2 linked regions of the Homo sapiens genome follow. The protein of the gene in region 2 binds, or shares a complex with, the protein of the main gene of each other region. Each region holds a gene or a part of one and is shown on either strand. Other genes may lie near its edges. A codon is read from its position in the direction of its gene.

Evidence for each region. Proteins that work in one complex are often made in the same cells at the same time.
Region 1: the proteins of U2AF1 (region 2) and U2AF2 are in contact, whole or in part, in a crystal structure (PDB 1JMT), measured with the Homo sapiens proteins. Residues at the interface, in NP_006749.1 of Homo sapiens: His77, Glu80, Phe81, Glu84, Val85, Glu88, Met89, Leu130, Asn131, Asn132, Arg133, Trp134, Phe135, Asn136, Gly137, Gln138, Pro139, Ile140, His141; in NP_009210.1 of Homo sapiens: Lys90 (codon at 3,273), Tyr91 (codon at 3,276), Trp92 (codon at 3,279), Asp93 (codon at 3,282), Val94 (codon at 3,285), Pro95 (codon at 3,288), Pro96 (codon at 3,291), Phe99 (codon at 3,300), Ile102 (codon at 3,309), Thr103 (codon at 3,312), Pro104 (codon at 3,315), Met105 (codon at 3,318), Tyr107 (codon at 3,324), Lys108 (codon at 3,327), Gln111 (codon at 3,336).

What each region holds. Positions count from the first base shown.
Region 1 is NC_000019.10:55,657,281-55,665,240, forward strand, and holds part of U2AF2 (splicing factor U2AF 65 kDa subunit), read left to right. Parts: intron 1-1,581; exon of another isoform or gene 1,582-1,701; intron 1,702-1,929; coding exon 1,930-2,065; intron 2,066-2,896; coding exon 2,897-2,941; intron 2,942-3,235; coding exon 3,236-3,339; intron 3,340-3,757; coding exon 3,758-3,909; intron 3,910-4,490; exon of another isoform or gene 4,491-4,550; intron 4,551-5,221; coding exon 5,222-5,338; intron 5,339-6,325; coding exon 6,326-6,464; intron 6,465-7,960. UniProt on the Homo sapiens protein: Plays a role in pre-mRNA splicing and 3'-end processing. By recruiting PRPF19 and the PRP19C/Prp19 complex/NTC/Nineteen complex to the RNA polymerase II C-terminal domain (CTD), and thereby pre-mRNA, may couple transcription to splicing.
Region 2 is NC_000021.9:43,097,362-43,105,321, forward strand, and holds part of U2AF1 (splicing factor U2AF 35 kDa subunit), read right to left. Parts: intron 7,042-7,960; coding exon 6,954-7,041; intron 4,072-6,953; coding exon of another isoform or gene 4,005-4,071; intron 3,159-4,004; coding exon 3,092-3,158; intron 1-3,091. UniProt on the Homo sapiens protein: Plays a critical role in both constitutive and enhancer-dependent splicing by mediating protein-protein interactions and protein-RNA interactions required for accurate 3'-splice site selection. Recruits U2 snRNP to the branch point.

The sequences.
Region 1 (7,960 bases), on a different chromosome or scaffold from region 2:
TTTTACCTGTCCAGCATCAGTGTGTGGGAGAGGGTTCTTGCCATAGGGGAAGCTCTGCCCGCGTGTCACTGCCTGTAGTCTTTGTCTCTGCGGAGGACGGGCCAGCTTCTGTACGTGTCGCCTTCTGCTTCAGTCCTTTCCTCTGCTACCTGTATCTACAGGGAATTTCCTTGTCTATATCCCAGGCACCCAGCGGGCATCATTGCTTTCTCTGCGTGGGTTCCTGTCTGCCTGCTTGCCTGTTTCAGAGCCTTAGCAGCAGAAAGGGCTCTTGGGGCTCACAGCCTGTCCATCTTATAAGCGAGGAGCTGTGCCCAGTGCCGTGCCTGTGTGCCCGCTGCTCTACACTGCTGGCCTGTCCTGCCGATTGTTCCTCCCAATTTCAGTTTTTGATTTTGGGGTTTTTGGCCTTCAAGGGGACAATTATATTGTCATTAATGGTTCTAGCCAGACCTGAGTGTTCTGCCTGATCCACATTCGAGAGTATGGCCTCGTGCTTAACTCACTGATGTCAGAGTGTTTAAATTCTGGTGTCACCATTTCCTAGCTGTTTGACCTTGGTAATTGTGATCTCTCTATACCTTAGTTTCCTTACCCATTATGTCAGCCCCCAGCAGTGTTTTTCCGAAGCAGTAGTGAGGATTAAGAACAAACAAAACAATTTAGTACAGATTCCGGTTGTAGGAAGCATCTCAATATTTGTTGCTGTTTTTTTCCCTGCTGGGTGCATATTTTTCTGAGTGTTGGTGGTTTTGGAATTGTGATGCTTTTCCAGACATTCACATTGCATCGCAAAAACGTGAGACAAAACACTGTGGGTGAGGCTGAAGTTTAACATCCTCCCTCAGTGCCCTTTCCTCCTCTTGTCCCCAGGGATGATCACTCCAGGAGATGCGTGTTAACATATATAAGCACCTTAACGTGTGCATCTGTTTTGTGTGTGTGCTTCATGGCTAGCTGAGAAATCTGGGTGTCTTTGAATTAAGGAAATGGTGTGGCGGTGCTCATGAACCCCCCCGCCCCCCCATGCTCATGGTTTATCCTCCATCTTGAAGGGCCGGTCTCTCTTCAGGGGTTGAAGGGTCTGGTGAGAGCAGAGGTTTCTGTGGTTTTGCCAGTGAGGCTCCGTTCCTAGTGGCTACCTCAGGCAAATAGAGGGTTGAGGGAGCCTGCTGGAGGCTGGCAGAGATACCCGCCCCTACTCACGCCTTTACAGTCTCTTCAGTACTTGGCTTTGAAGGGAGTGAGGCTGAGAGATTCAAGTGGTTTGGGATTCAAGTCTGGATGGGGCAAGCTCCTCCCCTGACCTGCTGAAGGAGAGGAGGGCCTCTTTCCCCTTCAGTCTGCAGATTCTCCGAGGCCCTTCTCTTCCCCTGGGAAGGGTGCTTGCTTCTGCATTATTCACCGGCTTGGGAAGGGATGGGTTGAGTTTCCCTGCTTCCTGGGGATATCAGATCCTGCCTGGCACCTGACCCCTAGTCCTGATGGTGGGGCTGTGGGTGCCAGCTAGTTGCAGAGGTCTTTCCTGAGGGGTCGCTGGGTCCCTTCAGGAAAACATCATTGGGTCTCTTGATTCCCCAGCCTCTAGCCCTGCCCCTCTCAGGGACGACCCTGGGGTCAGGCCCCTCAGCCCTCGAGGGGGACCAGGAGCCAGCCTCCTCTGTCTTCTCTGGCTCCCCAGCTCCTCCTGAGCATCCTCAGGTATCTTACACCCCGGGGGCATTTCCAGGCCCCGTCCCCCTGGTCCCCTCATGGTCCCTGGACTCGCTTGTGGACCCAGGAGGCCTGTTAATTCCCTTCCTCCATTGAATCCCTTCCCTTTGGGGGTGGCCTCCCTGGGGCTTGGGACATAGCCACCAGCGCGCAGGGTGGGCTGGGCCCGCATCCTTACTCCGCTTATCCCGTGCCCCTCCTCTCACCCTTGCCCAGAGCGGGACAAGGAGAACCGGCATCGGAAGCGCAGCCACAGCCGCTCTCGGAGCCGGGACCGCAAACGCCGGAGCCGGAGCCGCGACCGGCGCAACCGGGACCAGCGGAGCGCCTCCCGGGACAGGCGACGACGCAGGTACTAGGGCTCAGGGATCCCCTGGGCCAGCCTGGGAGTCGGGGGGTCGGTGTTGGCCGGCCTGTGGGTGGCCTGTGTGTGTCTGTGTCTGGGTCCGGGCCCTGTGTGGCTCGTTCGTTCTTTGTGTGGATCTGGGGGAGGGATCTACTGCTTGGTCTGTCTTGGATTCCGATTTTTTCCCCCGTTTCTGGGGTTTCTTTCATTTTCTGTCTTGGTGGTTGCTGGTGGGTTGCTGGGGGCAATAGGCTCTTTATCTGGAGCCTGGGAATTGATTCTGTGTTTTCCTTCACAAGGGGTTGTTCTCTGTCTCTGACTCTGAGGGCCTGTTCCTTCTTTTCGACTCTCTGTGGCTCTCTGTGGGACTCTCTTCGAGGGGGTTGGTCTCTGCCTCCAGTTTCTTTCTTCCCTGCCTCCCAGGAGAAGGGAGCTCTTGGGACCGAGGCAGTATCCACAGCCTGGGCTGACTTTTTGGCCCAGGGGTGTCGGTTTCCACCGCCTCTTCCCTTCTAGGCTCCCCTTTCTGTTCTCTGCCTCCTTAGGTGAGGAAGGGCAGGATAGGCGGAAGTCCTCCTGCCTCCTCCCGGCTCAGTTTCTCCAGCTAGAGACTGGTCCTTCCTGGCCCCTGGCCCCTTTCTCCTTTCCTCACTTCCTCTTTCCTGGGGGTGGGAGTGTTTGGGGGGAAATGGCAGGGCCGAGGGTGGCCTGCTTGCTGCTTGTTGACCTCGGCCCTGCTCCCACCCTGGGGCTCAGTGCCCTTGGGGGGGTGTGGCATGTGGGGAAGACGAGGGTCCCCAGTCACCCCTCCCCATACCTTTCCCTCCCACCCCCCAGCAAACCTTTGACCAGAGGCGCTAAAGAGGAGCACGGTGGACTGATGTGAGCTTCTCTTCCTGCCCCTTCCTCCCTGATGTCCACTCCCTTCACCTTCCTCACGCCCGTGCACCCTGTCCCGCCCATTTCCAGCCCTGGCCCAAGCACTGGGAAGAGTCCACTTACCTTGAAACCAGCACCCCTTTCCCAGGCCCTGCCCCAGACCCTCTCCTTCCCTGGAGAGAGTGGAGCTTACATGGTTGCGGGGAGGGTGAAAGGGTGCCTGGGAGGGGGCTCGCAGGCCCACTGTTGGTCAGACTGAGGTTGCCCTGCCCCGCTCTCCCCTCCCACCTCCCCCAGTCGTTCCCCCCGCCACGAGAAGAAGAAGAAGGTCCGTAAATACTGGGACGTGCCACCCCCAGGCTTTGAGCACATCACCCCAATGCAGTACAAGGCCATGCAAGGTAGGCCCCTGGCCAGGCTGCTCCCAGAGCGGGAGGGTACAGGGGTTGGGATTCTCCGTCAGTCATTCCCCTGCGTGTGTGCTTGGAGGGGGTCAAAGACACAGGTAGAGGGTTGCACACCCCTGGGGGTTCTGGTCTCTGCGCTTTTGAAGCCTCCCTAGAGGAGGAAATGACCAGAGACACCCGTGGTTGACAGGGGAATGAGGCCTCCATCTGGACGCCATTAGGAAGTGAGGCTTCTGAGGAGCAGCAGTTACTGGGTGGGGGCCCCGAGGGTGGAAAGAGGGTTCTGGAAGGTGCTAAGACCGAGAGCCTGTAGGAGCTTTCTGCTGAGGAGGGGAACTCCCAGTGTGTGGTGAGGGGTGGTCACTGAGCATTCCCCTGATGGGGTTTTATCCGGCTTTTATTCCCTTTGAAGCTGCGGGTCAGATTCCAGCCACTGCTCTTCTCCCCACCATGACCCCTGACGGTCTGGCTGTGACCCCAACGCCGGTGCCCGTGGTCGGGAGCCAGATGACCAGACAAGCCCGGCGCCTCTACGTGGGCAACATCCCCTTTGGCATCACTGAGGTACTGCCCTCCCCTGCCCCCTACCCTCTCCCTTGTCCCTCTACCCCGTTCCTCCCCTTCCCTCCATTCCCTTTCCCCAACCTGCACGGGTCAGACTCTGCTCCTGCAAGACCCCCCGGCCCCCTCCCAGACGGACCGATGGAGTTGAGCCAGCCAGGGGCCGGGCTGGGGGTGGCCCTCCCTCCCTCCTCTTCCCCTCTCCCGTCTCCCCTCCCCCCAACCTCCTCCAGCAACCCAGGGATCAAGCACACACATAATGTACCCACGTGTTGTACCTACGTGTCGGAGAGAGACAGAGAGGGAGACTTGGACACACACACACACACACACACACACACACACACACACACACAGACGCACGCTGCCCCTCAGTTTTTTTCTGACACGCCTCTCGTTCTCTGCCGCCTGTCCCCTATCCTCTCCCCCACGTCCCTCCCATGGTCGCTGTTCTTTTATTTTTGATCGCCCCTGACCTCCCCCTTCCCCACCACTCCTTTTCCCTCTCCCCTCTCCCCAACCCCTTCCTGTGGCACCCCCTGAGAATCCCGAGATCAAAGAGTTGTTTCCATTTCTCTTTAAAGTGAAATATTGTGGGGCTGAGATCCCTCGTAGCAACAAAAAGTTTGCTACCATCGTCGAAGGCAAGTAAGGTCCATTCTGACTTTCTCAACCTGCACTTTGCTACATTTGATAAACCAGCCCCCGGACTCCAGGGCCAGATTCCTCCACATCACTCTTTTCTCCTCCCCTCCCGTCCCTGCCCCTCCTCCCTACACTCCTCCTCTCCTGCCCCTGCACTCTTGACTTCCTCCTCCTCGCTCGTCTCTGTCCTGCTCTCCCTTTCTGTCCTTTGCTCGTCTCTGCCCCTGCCTGCCACTTCCTTTCTACTTTCCTGCCACTTTTCTGTCTGTCTCCACTGGGTGGCCCTTCCTGTGTGCTCTGTCTCTTCATCTCTTGTGTTTCGTGTTTTTCTTCATTTTGTGTTGTCATCATGCCCTCTGCCTTTTCTTGAACAATCTTCTCCTTTCCCCTGATTTTTTGGGGCCCCTGTGGCTGTCCCCCAACGCCTGTCCATCGCCTGCCCTTGGCCGTCTCTTGCTACTGCTTCCTCCCCATTTTCTCTCTTGCTTCTGTTCTTACTATTGACTTCTACACCCCCACCCATATTCCACTGTTCCTTCCCCCCCTCCTCCCTCCCCTCATCCCTCTCCCCTTACCCCCAAACCCCTCTGTGTCTCCCTCTCTCACCCTTCCCCTCCTCTCTCCACCTCCCTTCCCCCGCCCCCCCCCTTGTCTCCTATTCCCTCTGCAGGAGGCCATGATGGATTTCTTCAACGCCCAGATGCGCCTGGGGGGGCTGACCCAGGCCCCTGGCAACCCAGTGTTGGCTGTGCAGATTAACCAGGACAAGAATTTTGCCTTTTTGGAGGTGAGCTGGGGGAGTGAGTGAGGTCCAGGAAACGTGTGTGATGTGAGGGCCCAGCCCTTAGGCTGATGTTGTGTGGAGCTGCCTTGTGCTGTTTCCACCAGGCCCTCTGCAGCCTCTTCTCCACCCGGTCGCTGAAGTGAGCCCTGTTATAGCATTACAGATCTGATCCTACTTTCTGCCTTCCATTTGCTTTCTGTGTGACCTGAGAGGCCTGTTTGGCCTCTGTAGACCTCTTTGGCCTTTTCCAGACCATTCCGGCCCAGTCCTCTCTGCACTCTGGCCACACTGACCTTCCCAGAACCTACCATGCTCCTGCCTGCTTGGCTAGAGTTCTTTACACCAGCTAACTGATGTTCCTAACTAGTCTTCTGTTACCCCAGCTAACTGATGTTCCTAACTAGTCTTCTGTGTCTGTGTTTCTCAACTGTCGGGAAAAGGCCTTGGTTTTTGATTTTCGACTCTTGGTGGACTGATAACTCTCATGAAGTATTGTGAAGGTGTGGGCAGTGTTAGCTTACTGCAGAGATTTCTGAGCACTCCCTCTCACTGTCTGAGCACTCCCTCTCACTCTGTCCCTCTCACTCTGTCTTTGCCTCACTGCAGTCCACTTGCAGTTGCATTGCTCCGGAGATGGGCTGAAATGTCCCCCTCACCAGAAAGACTCCAGTACTGTCATCTCCCCGTTCAACTAACCTTTCCCGTAACATCCCTTTTCAGCACTTTGTCCCTCTTCCGTGTCATCACAGCCTGCAATTGTGTGTTTGCCTCTGTGTTTGTGTTGGGTGCCTGGTGTTTTTAATGGTCGAGTGTGAGCTCCTGGCAGCAGGGACATGCGTGTCTGTTGTACTCCCAGTGCCCAGCCTGGGGCCTGGCATGTTGTATTTGTTCACATGAGTGAAAGGAAAGAGGAAATCCCAATCCTGGAACACTAGGGGCTGTACTAGTCCCTGACCCCCATCCCTCACCACTCCTTTCTCTTTCATTCAGTTCCGCTCAGTGGACGAGACTACCCAGGCTATGGCCTTTGATGGCATCATCTTCCAGGGCCAGTCACTAAAGATCCGCAGGCCTCACGACTACCAGCCGCTTCCTGGCATGTCAGAGAACCCCTCCGTCTATGTGCCTGGTGAGTGGGGGATCCATTAAGGGCCCCTTTCTCCCCCAGTCCTGTTCCCATGGCCTGTCCATCCCTTCAGCCCAGCTGGAGTGGCTTAGGAAGTTGTGTAAGTACTGTGGAAGATAGGTGCCTTTTCCCTGCTTCCCCTAAGTCTCTGTGAGTGGGGTGCTCTCCTGCTGGTAGAGAAGGTGCCTAGGGCCGGGAGAATGAGCTGTCACCTGCTGAGGACACACAGCTTGTACGTGGCAGAGCCAGGATCAGACCAAAGGTGCTGGGGAAGCGAGGGGCTTGTGGCCTGGACCTCGTGCCTGCGTTGCGGCTGTGGGACCTTGGAGGGCTCAGTCTGTGCCCGTCGGGGCTGCTGTGTGTCGACGGTTGGCAGCAAAGCTGCTGCTGTGGGGTCTGGCACCTGGGTATTCACTTGTTTTTGTCTCCTAGTGTTTGCCTTGAATCTTGTGTTCTGGGCCATTCCCCATAGCTGTGTTGAACATCATCTGTAATTGGTAGGTAACATAGCAGACCAGGGGTTGGCGACCATGTCACTGTGTGTGAAAGCAGCCGGACGGTGTCTGCGTGCGTGGGCCTGGCTGTGTGCCGGCACACCTCGACACGCGTGGCTGCTGAGGTTGGGCTTTCCTGTGCTTCTCACAGGCCACAGAATGGTCTCCCTTTAGAAAGCTTGCAGGATGTGCAAAACCAGGTGATGGGCCCTGTCAGCCCACAGGCTATAGTTGGCTGACCCTTGTAGCTGATGAATGGGATTTGAGGGAGGGCTTGTCTGATGCCCTGTCAGGGTGCGGCTGTGTCTCAGGCCTGGGACATGGAGGAGGTGGGGTTCTGCTGGCGGGTACTCACTGTTCGAGGAGCCCTTTAGGAACTGAGTCAGCTCTTCAGGGCAGGCGATGTGGAGCCCCAGACGGAGGCACATCTGTGTCAGGCAGGACTTGGGCTAGGTCCCTCACTGGCCTCCAGTGCTTTTCTTTTTGTTGTTGTTGTTGTTTTGAGACAGTCTCGCTCTGTCACCCAGGCTGGAATGCAGTGGCACGATCTCGGCTTACTGCATCCTCCGCCTCTAGGGTTCAAGCAATTCTCCTGCTTCAGCCTCCCGAGCAGCTGGGATTACAGGCACCTGCCACCATGTCTGGCTAATTTTTGTATTTTTAGTAGAGGGTGGGTTTCACCATGTTGGTCAGGTTGGTCTCCGACGCCTGACCTCAAGTGATCCGCTCACCTCAGTCTCCCAGAGTGTTGGGATTACAGGCATGAGCCACTGCGCTCAGCCCAGTGCTTTTCCATCATGGGTTTTGGTAAATTCAGCTAACCTTTTGGAGCCTGTAATATATGTTGACATGCTCCCAATCGACATGGACTTTTTACGTATGGGTGCGTTTCCCCGATCAAGCTGCAGAATGTCTTCCCCACGTCTCTTCCTGGTGAATCCACTGCGTTTTCATTCATTTTAAGTCCCATGAGTGGCCCGCCACTTGCTGGTGCTTAGTGTGTGT
Region 2 (7,960 bases):
CTTACCTCAGCCTCCCAAAGTGCTGAGATTACAGGCATGAGCCACTGCCCCCGGCCCACTCTATCAAATTCTAGAGTTCTCTAAACCTGAGAAATCACAGAGCTGGTGTATCAACAAACATGTTCCAATCAGCTAGATTAGGGGCTGGCAAAAGCCTGACTGGTTTCCAGATTGGGCCGGCTGCCTTAGCCTGTGCACCCAACGTGGGCATCTGACTGCTGGCACACGGGTCTTTGAGCTTGCTCAAAACTCTTTTTATCTTTTTTTTTTTTTTTTTTGAGACGGCGTCTCACTGTCTCCAGGCTGGAGTGCAATGGCGTGATCTTGGCTAATTTTTGTAGTTTTAGTAGAGACGGGGTTCCACCATGTTGGCCAGGATGGTCTCAATCTCTCGACCTCGTGATCCACTTGCCTCGGCTTTCCAAAGTGCTGGGATTACAGGCGTGAGCCACCGTGCCCGGCCCCCTTTTTATCTTTGAAGATAAAAAATAACTTCTTATTTTCTAATTCTGAGAATGATTTAAGTTCACTTTCTAACCTATCCGGGGCTGTTTTAGTTATTTTTGAACTTCCAGGAATCTGCTTTCGAACCCAAATTTTATTAAGTGTAACTACTCGGACAGCCTGCCAATCATATCACAGGATATCCCAATTGGAAAGCTATTGGGAATGTACCTTCCTCCCCGAGTAGAAATCAAGTTATAAACGGCCAAAGTAGCCTATTCCAAAGGGCAGATTTTAATATTTCAAATTCACTTCCTTCCCACATAAGAAGAATGTGAAGAGGAGAAAATTATTCACATGCTCAAAGTTTTAGCAGGTTTGAGAAATGGTTTTGGGGTGATTATTTTAAATTATTGGCTATATTTGTTCTGCTTAAAATGTTTCAATCAAAGTGACTTGAAAGGCAGAGACAACTGCATTAAGATACAATTAAAAACTTATTTGTGACTCAGCCTATGTTAAATACTACAACTTGGAAAATAAAGCAGTTTTCTTACAGAAATATCATTCTTAAACTGGGATTGATAGTTAACTTTAACCCACGCATTTGAAGCTTATTTTTTTACATACTAAAGGGTATGTTGAAAAGAGCCAGTAATTTTAGGTAATTGATTTCTTCCTAAAATGACGAATTAGAATTTCATCTAATTTGTACAATCTGGACTCCAGAATTGGAATATAACGTAATTGCTAAACTTTTAGTTTGTAGCATATGCAAAACAAAAGTGCTGTGAACTGCAAATAAAGACACAATGAAAACTAATACAACATTCTATTGTCAGTCAAGAAAGCATATACAGTCCCCAAATAAACGATCAGGGCAAAGAATTAATTACTGTTACTCAGTCATGTACTTCCATTCACTTTTATCCCAGGGCAGGGTTGTTAACAAAAATTATTTAATAAGTGCATATAGAAACAATTTCCCTCCGCCTATTGATCTTATTTCCTTAAAAAACAAAAGAAAACAAACAAACAAAAAAACAGGTATTTTAAACCAAGGGTTACCAAGTAAATCCTGCTACCATCCGACTCAGGGAAAGAAATCTCTACTATCAGGTCAGTATTAGCACTGAAAAGCATTTAGTGTCTTGGCAGGAAAAGTTGACAAGAAAATCTCATCCACACATAGAAATGTGCACCACTGTGCAAGGAAGCACAATCCCCAGGCCACCCAGTGCAGGGCCAGCTCGAGAGGGGAATGCCCCCTGGGATCAGCTACCCCATGTCGGTCACCCCATTAACTGAGGGGCTCTGGTTCAAGGGTGTACTCAATTTAGGCTTGTGGATATCCAAGGGCACCTCAATTTTTACTGCTTTAAAACAGAATGGTGAATGGGAAGTGCCTATCTTTGGTTTGGACTTTCTGATTTTAACAAGAGTCCAGGTGTTCATTTTAATTTATCCATAAATGACTAAATTCTAATGATTCTATAGTTGGATGGCTGTAAAAATCAAATTTTAGTTTTCTGAACTTCCCAATCATACTCATCTATGATATCTCCTTCTCTAAAAATTATCATTAGGTAAATATTCACAATCTAAATTTAGTATTTCCCAGTACAGGAAGATATTGGTACCATCTACTGAATGCCCAGTTTTGATCTATTTCTAAATGGAGCAAACCAATTCCATCTCCTAGAGCTGGAGACTGTATCCAGGCAGTGTGTGGACAGAACGGACAATCTTTTCTGCCAAGGGCCTATTTGAGTGGAGCACCCCCACACGGGTTAGACGGGTCGGCACGGGGCTGGTGGGTGAGGAACTCAGGGGTCAGTGCAAGCTGCAGACCCTCATTTGGGGAACGCTCTCAGCACAATGCTCTTACAACTACAGGGTGCACTCCAAAATGGAGTTCAAGGAAAAAAGGCTAATGAGAAATAAAATCTGAAAAAATAACTTAAAAAGTTTGCTTTTTAAAAATTCCAGAAAGTGAGAGAAACATTCAAATTTTGTTGCTCTAAGAGGGAAGAATATGACTCGACGTTTAATTCCAGTACATTCCCTCTAGGATGACGGCCAAAGTAAAGGAAGAAGGGGCAGCAGCAGCTCCAGACTGTTTTTTTTTTTTTTTTTGGAGACGGAGTCTCACTCTGTCGCCCAGGCTGGAGTGCAGCGGCACGATCTCAGTTCACTGCAACCTCCGCCTCCCGGGTTCAAGCGATTCTCTGCCTCAGCCTCCCTAGAAGCTGGGATTGCAGGCATCTGCCACCACGCCCAGCTAATTTTTGTATCTTTAGTAGAGATGGGGTTTCACCATGTTGGCCAGATTGGTCTTGAACTCCTGACCTCATGATCCACCCGCCTCGGCCTCCCAAAGTGCTGGGATTACAGGCGTGAGCCACCGCGCCCGGCCCAGCTCTAGACTGTTTTAAAGGGCACCCTTTCCAGTTACTTTTTCCCTTTTAACACACGGTGGGAGTTCAAATCTCCAAAAGAGGTTTCCATGGGGTCAGTGGGACGAAAGCTCCTTGCCACCTCTAGTGAAACGCGGTCCTTGACACTAGCACGGCAGACCAGATGGAGTGGACACTGAGCTCTGACACGCAAGCCCAGGGAACCGGGGAAGGAACTTGTATGAACTTACAGCGCAAACCGTCAGCAGACTGGGAAGAGTTTTGAGGGTTACGGTAAATGTTCAAGAGGGCAATGGTCTGAAATACAAAACGCAACAACTTTATATTATGGAAAATTAAAGGTAAACACTTAACCGGCTGCCTCTGGCAAGTGCTTCAGTTGAGATTCAGTGCTGAAAAGAGAGCAAGTTATTTTCTGGAGAAGCAGAGGCGTTTTCTCAGTTGGCGGCTGCCTTGAATCCCTAACACTGCGGTGTAACGGAGGTCTCATGATATGCCCATCTTGTACTTCTGCTTACAGAACGTGAAAACTCTCCTTTTCAAAATTCCAATTCAGGTAAAAGCACAAATAGTTTGCCAGGCTAGCACCAAAATGTTCTTAGATGTGGCAGAAAATTTTTAATGAACTCGGAAAGAATAATGCTTACATAAACTGATGGAAAAAATTACTGTATTAGAGAAATACAATTGTTACATATCATGAAATCTCCACTTCCTGGAGGAAAAATTATAATGGTGAAATAAAACCCACACTTACTGGGCAACTTACCTTATTGATTCCTTAATATTCCTAAGAGTTTTAATTTTACACAAAGAACTTAATAAAGGCCAGGGGTTCAGTCACTGTAAAGACCAATGAATGGCTCAAAATGTTGAAATCCGTTTCACATGGACGGACCTGCTCTCATGACAAATGTCAATCAATGGAGGTGGCCGGGCCAGTGACCCTCCCTAGAAGGGATAAGCCTCCTGAACGTGGCCAAGTATCAAGTTCTTGCTGTGTGCGCCAAGGAGTTCCAGCACCTTGTCCTGTTTGCAACAGCTCTATGTCAGCAGCTCAGAAGCCAACATTATTTGTCTCAATTAAGAGTGGGCTCTTTAACACCATTGTTTTAAAAAAATTTCTCCAACTGTGGGACTTACAGTGTGAGCCGTCAGCCGTCTGTGCACTGTTTTGGGGATTACGATAGATGTTTTGAATCAAGATGGTCTGCGGGGAAAAAAAAATAAAAAGGGGAATTCTACTGGCTGCTGTGCATATATTAGACAATTGCAAAGAGACAATTTGTTTGCAAATGGCTAAACGTTTGTTTTTTTCCCGCAAGTCAGACATTTGTCTTCTGAAGAGTACACCAAAACCATCATATTATGAAAACAGAGTTTGAGCAGTGACTTGGGTCAAGTCAGCCAGCAACCAAGAAGAAACTGTATTGTTTTGATTAGTCCCACGTTTTCAATGTTAAAGTGTTTTAATGCAAGATAAATAGTAGAATACTAATATTTTCTTGTACTTCAAGCTAGCAGACACCAAGATGTGGAAAAATTCACGTTATAATCATATTCCTCACACAAGATAATTTTTCAAAACCAAATGCGTAACTCAGCTGTCTGCAGTACATCAAGTTCTCTGGTCTCCTAGCAAAACAGGCACACCAAACAGGTCTGTCAACTGTCATGGACACCCGGCTCTGATTTACACTTTCTTGGTGGGATCTCTGTTTACATAATACAATAGCTTAAAACATTTGCTCTTTTCCGATCCTTCTTTTAAGGAAAAAAAATCCTTTTAGCCCTTGTGCTTTAAACTGGATCAGGCAGACTTGAAACCTTACACTGTACCGTTCTTCTTAAAATCAAGTTGTCTGAAAAAACAAACCATGTTTAAGTTAGTAGGCTAATATATTACATGAATCTTAACGTCCATATCACTGTAAGCAGCTTATAAAGAAACCCACCCTGAATTATGCTAGAGATTTACAAGCTAAAGCAATCACTCGCATGATTTAGAAAAATAAATGTTTAGTCTCAACAATATCCACGTGAAGCAGTTTTGTAAGTGGTGGTTTTATAAAACCAGCCAGCTCCATTTCTAGCTCTGTTTAAAGGGGAGTGGTTGTATGAAGAGTTCCTCAGTCAAAGGTGTGCAGCTGGGAAGCCCACCCCACCTAAGAGGGAGGTCTGACAAACTGTCCACACTGAACCACTCAGACCTGCATCAGGGCCCCGTTTCTTCCATAAGCCGCCAAGTACAGCCCTGAGTCAACTGAACTCAGGCCTGGGAGGCTTCCCAAAGCTGACTTGACTCAGCTTTGAACTGAAATGACCGTACCATGACAACCCTGATGAAAAGCTAAACTGAGCCCAATTATTCAACAGTAAAATTCAGTTGGTCTCACTCAGGTATTCTGGCAGTGGCTATTTAATGAAGGAAGCTTAACGTAAAGAGGCAATGCAGTCTAATGGGAAAGCCAAGGGTGGCTAGGATTGCCTAAAACCAACCAAAACAAACCCACGCATCAAACTAGGATGCTTAAGCTGACACATACTACTGACCCCATCGAGCTCCAATGGGCTCTCCCCAGCACTGACCTGGAATGCCTAAATTAACTTCACATTTCACATTCTCAGGTAATCTATGATCCAGAAAAACATAAAGAAAGTGCCTCCAGCCAGATTAAAGAAAACTTTTAGAATAGGGAACAGTTGATTTCTCTCAGCCCAACACTTGGGACACCCCCCAAAATCAAAGAACTGGGTGGTCACTTAAGATGCTTGGTTATACCACAATCCATGGCCACTGGTTTAGTTAGGGGAGATTCGGTTCATAAATCAAAACATTAAAGAAAAAACAATTGCAATACACAGAAAATGTAAAGCTAGTTCTCCAAGATTTTGAAATTTGTAAAAAGAAACTCATGTTCAGAGCTATCAAAAGACAGACTGCTATTATACTAACCACTTGGTAATTAGCATAATGGAGGGAAAAGCCATCATCCTCTTCCCTTCTAAAAACACTGTGTGCTGTGGGGTCGTCCATGGGCTTCAACCGGAAAAAACCCATGTTTCCTTCTCCCAGCTCACTTACACAAAGTGGTAGATTTTCTTAAATGCTTACAGGAAAACGTATACAGACAGATGTGAGCTCAAAGGCAGAGCCTGGCAGCTCCCAGGGACCACGCATAATAGCTACTCAACAGCTCAGAGGCTGCACATTTAGACTTCAAGGGTGGGTTGGAAGGAGTTCCCCAGCCCTCCATCTGGAAAGACTTGGGCATCGATTTTCAAATTTCAAATGTTCTCATCAACGTGGGCACAAGTTTTCTGCTCCGATTAGAGGTGCCTTCTCCCTTTAATCCGTAAGTGATCCTTTATAGTGTACCAACCTTTGCCTTTTCTTCAACTAACCAAAAATAAAACTATCAAAACTCACAACTTTTGATTGAACTGAACTCAGAGCGGATCTAAGCCCAAGATAACAGGCACTCCTCAATTAACCAAACAGACCCGCTAAGAGCAATTTACGGCCCATTTTCTACCTTTCAGCTTAATTTTTCATGTTTCCATGACGTGATGCGACTCGCTGTTTCCTCAGCTAGGGATGTGAAAGTGAGGACGCAGCCAGAGAAGCTCGAGCAGCATGATGGGCCTGGTGACAATCACGCTAACTTGGAAGGTGGCTCCATCACCTCTACTGTCTGGAGACAGCAAAGAGCAGAAAGCCCACTCCGTGTCCACTGGTGCCTGGAGGAGGCTAACCCAAGGCTGGCACGGCCACCCCCTCTGGACCCATGTCTATCAGAGGGGGTAGGGAAGATGGCAGGGCAGCAAATATCAGGCACAGCCAACACACAAACATCAAAAACTGATTTTTAAAGTTTCTCTAATGATAAAAACAAGGAGTGGTGGTCTCAGACCTTCCACTGGAAGTCGATCACCTGCCTCACTATTATTTAAATAAAAGAACACACTTATGAACACAAATGGAAAATACAACTACGAGAGAAAAAATGACTTGCTTAATATGTAGAAATTAACTGTCTTTGAAAAGAACATGAAGTTTTTATAATTTACATGAAAAAAAGGCAAACAAACCTGGCTAAACGTCGGTTTATTGTGCAACCGAGAGCACCTGTCTCCATGACGACATGCTCCAATTTTGAAATAAAATGAACAGTTGACTCTGTAAGGGAAAATGAGAGCTGATTATTTTGCTGGGAAGATATCAAACACATGGAATATGTCAGCAGCATGACATACACTATCAAATTACTTTTAACCTCACAGAAACATGACACAGACTTTTTTCCGTGGTATTAAGCACCTCCTCTTCCTTGCTGTATTTTAGGACAACGTAACTTCAACTTCCCTTTCTGCAAACACACTACTTGTTCAGCAAAGACGGTTCTAACTCTAACCCGCCTCCTCCTCATTCAAATCCCCTCCACTTTCCTAACTGCACAGCTGTTCTGTTTGTTTCTTAAATGGAGTATTAAATTAGTCTAAAACTAAATGTAACTTAGGCAGTATCTGTTCTCCAGTTCTCCACGACCAAGTTCTCTCTTGAAAACACCGGTGTGGTGAGGGTTAAGATCCCAACTCTGCTACCAGCTGCTTGGGCTTGGGCAAGTCACCCTAGCTCTCAGATGTCATCTGTAAATGATGACAATGCCAATGTGGCACTGTTCTGAGAGTCAGACAGAACGTATGTGTGCTTCACATATGGTGCTCATGAAGTGCTATCATTATCTAAGGAAAACAGAAAACGAAGTTCAGAGTCTCTCTAAACGCATGACACCAGACCAACAGGGAGTTTCAAAAAATAGGTCTGAAGTAAATCAATTCTCCTGGTCTCAATACACTGAAAACAAACTATTAGGGGACTGACCGAACCCACCTTAGGAACCACCTTACGTCACCTTCTGTCTCTACTGCAAAACCCTCCCTTAATACTGTTCAAATACGCTGACAATCCAGATCCATATCCAATGGAACCAGCAATCATGCCTGTGTGCCAGCAATGTCAGGGAGGGAAGCCGATCTCTGATGAATTAGGACATCTTACCAGACAGACTTTGTTCAAAATTCAATTTTTTTTTAAC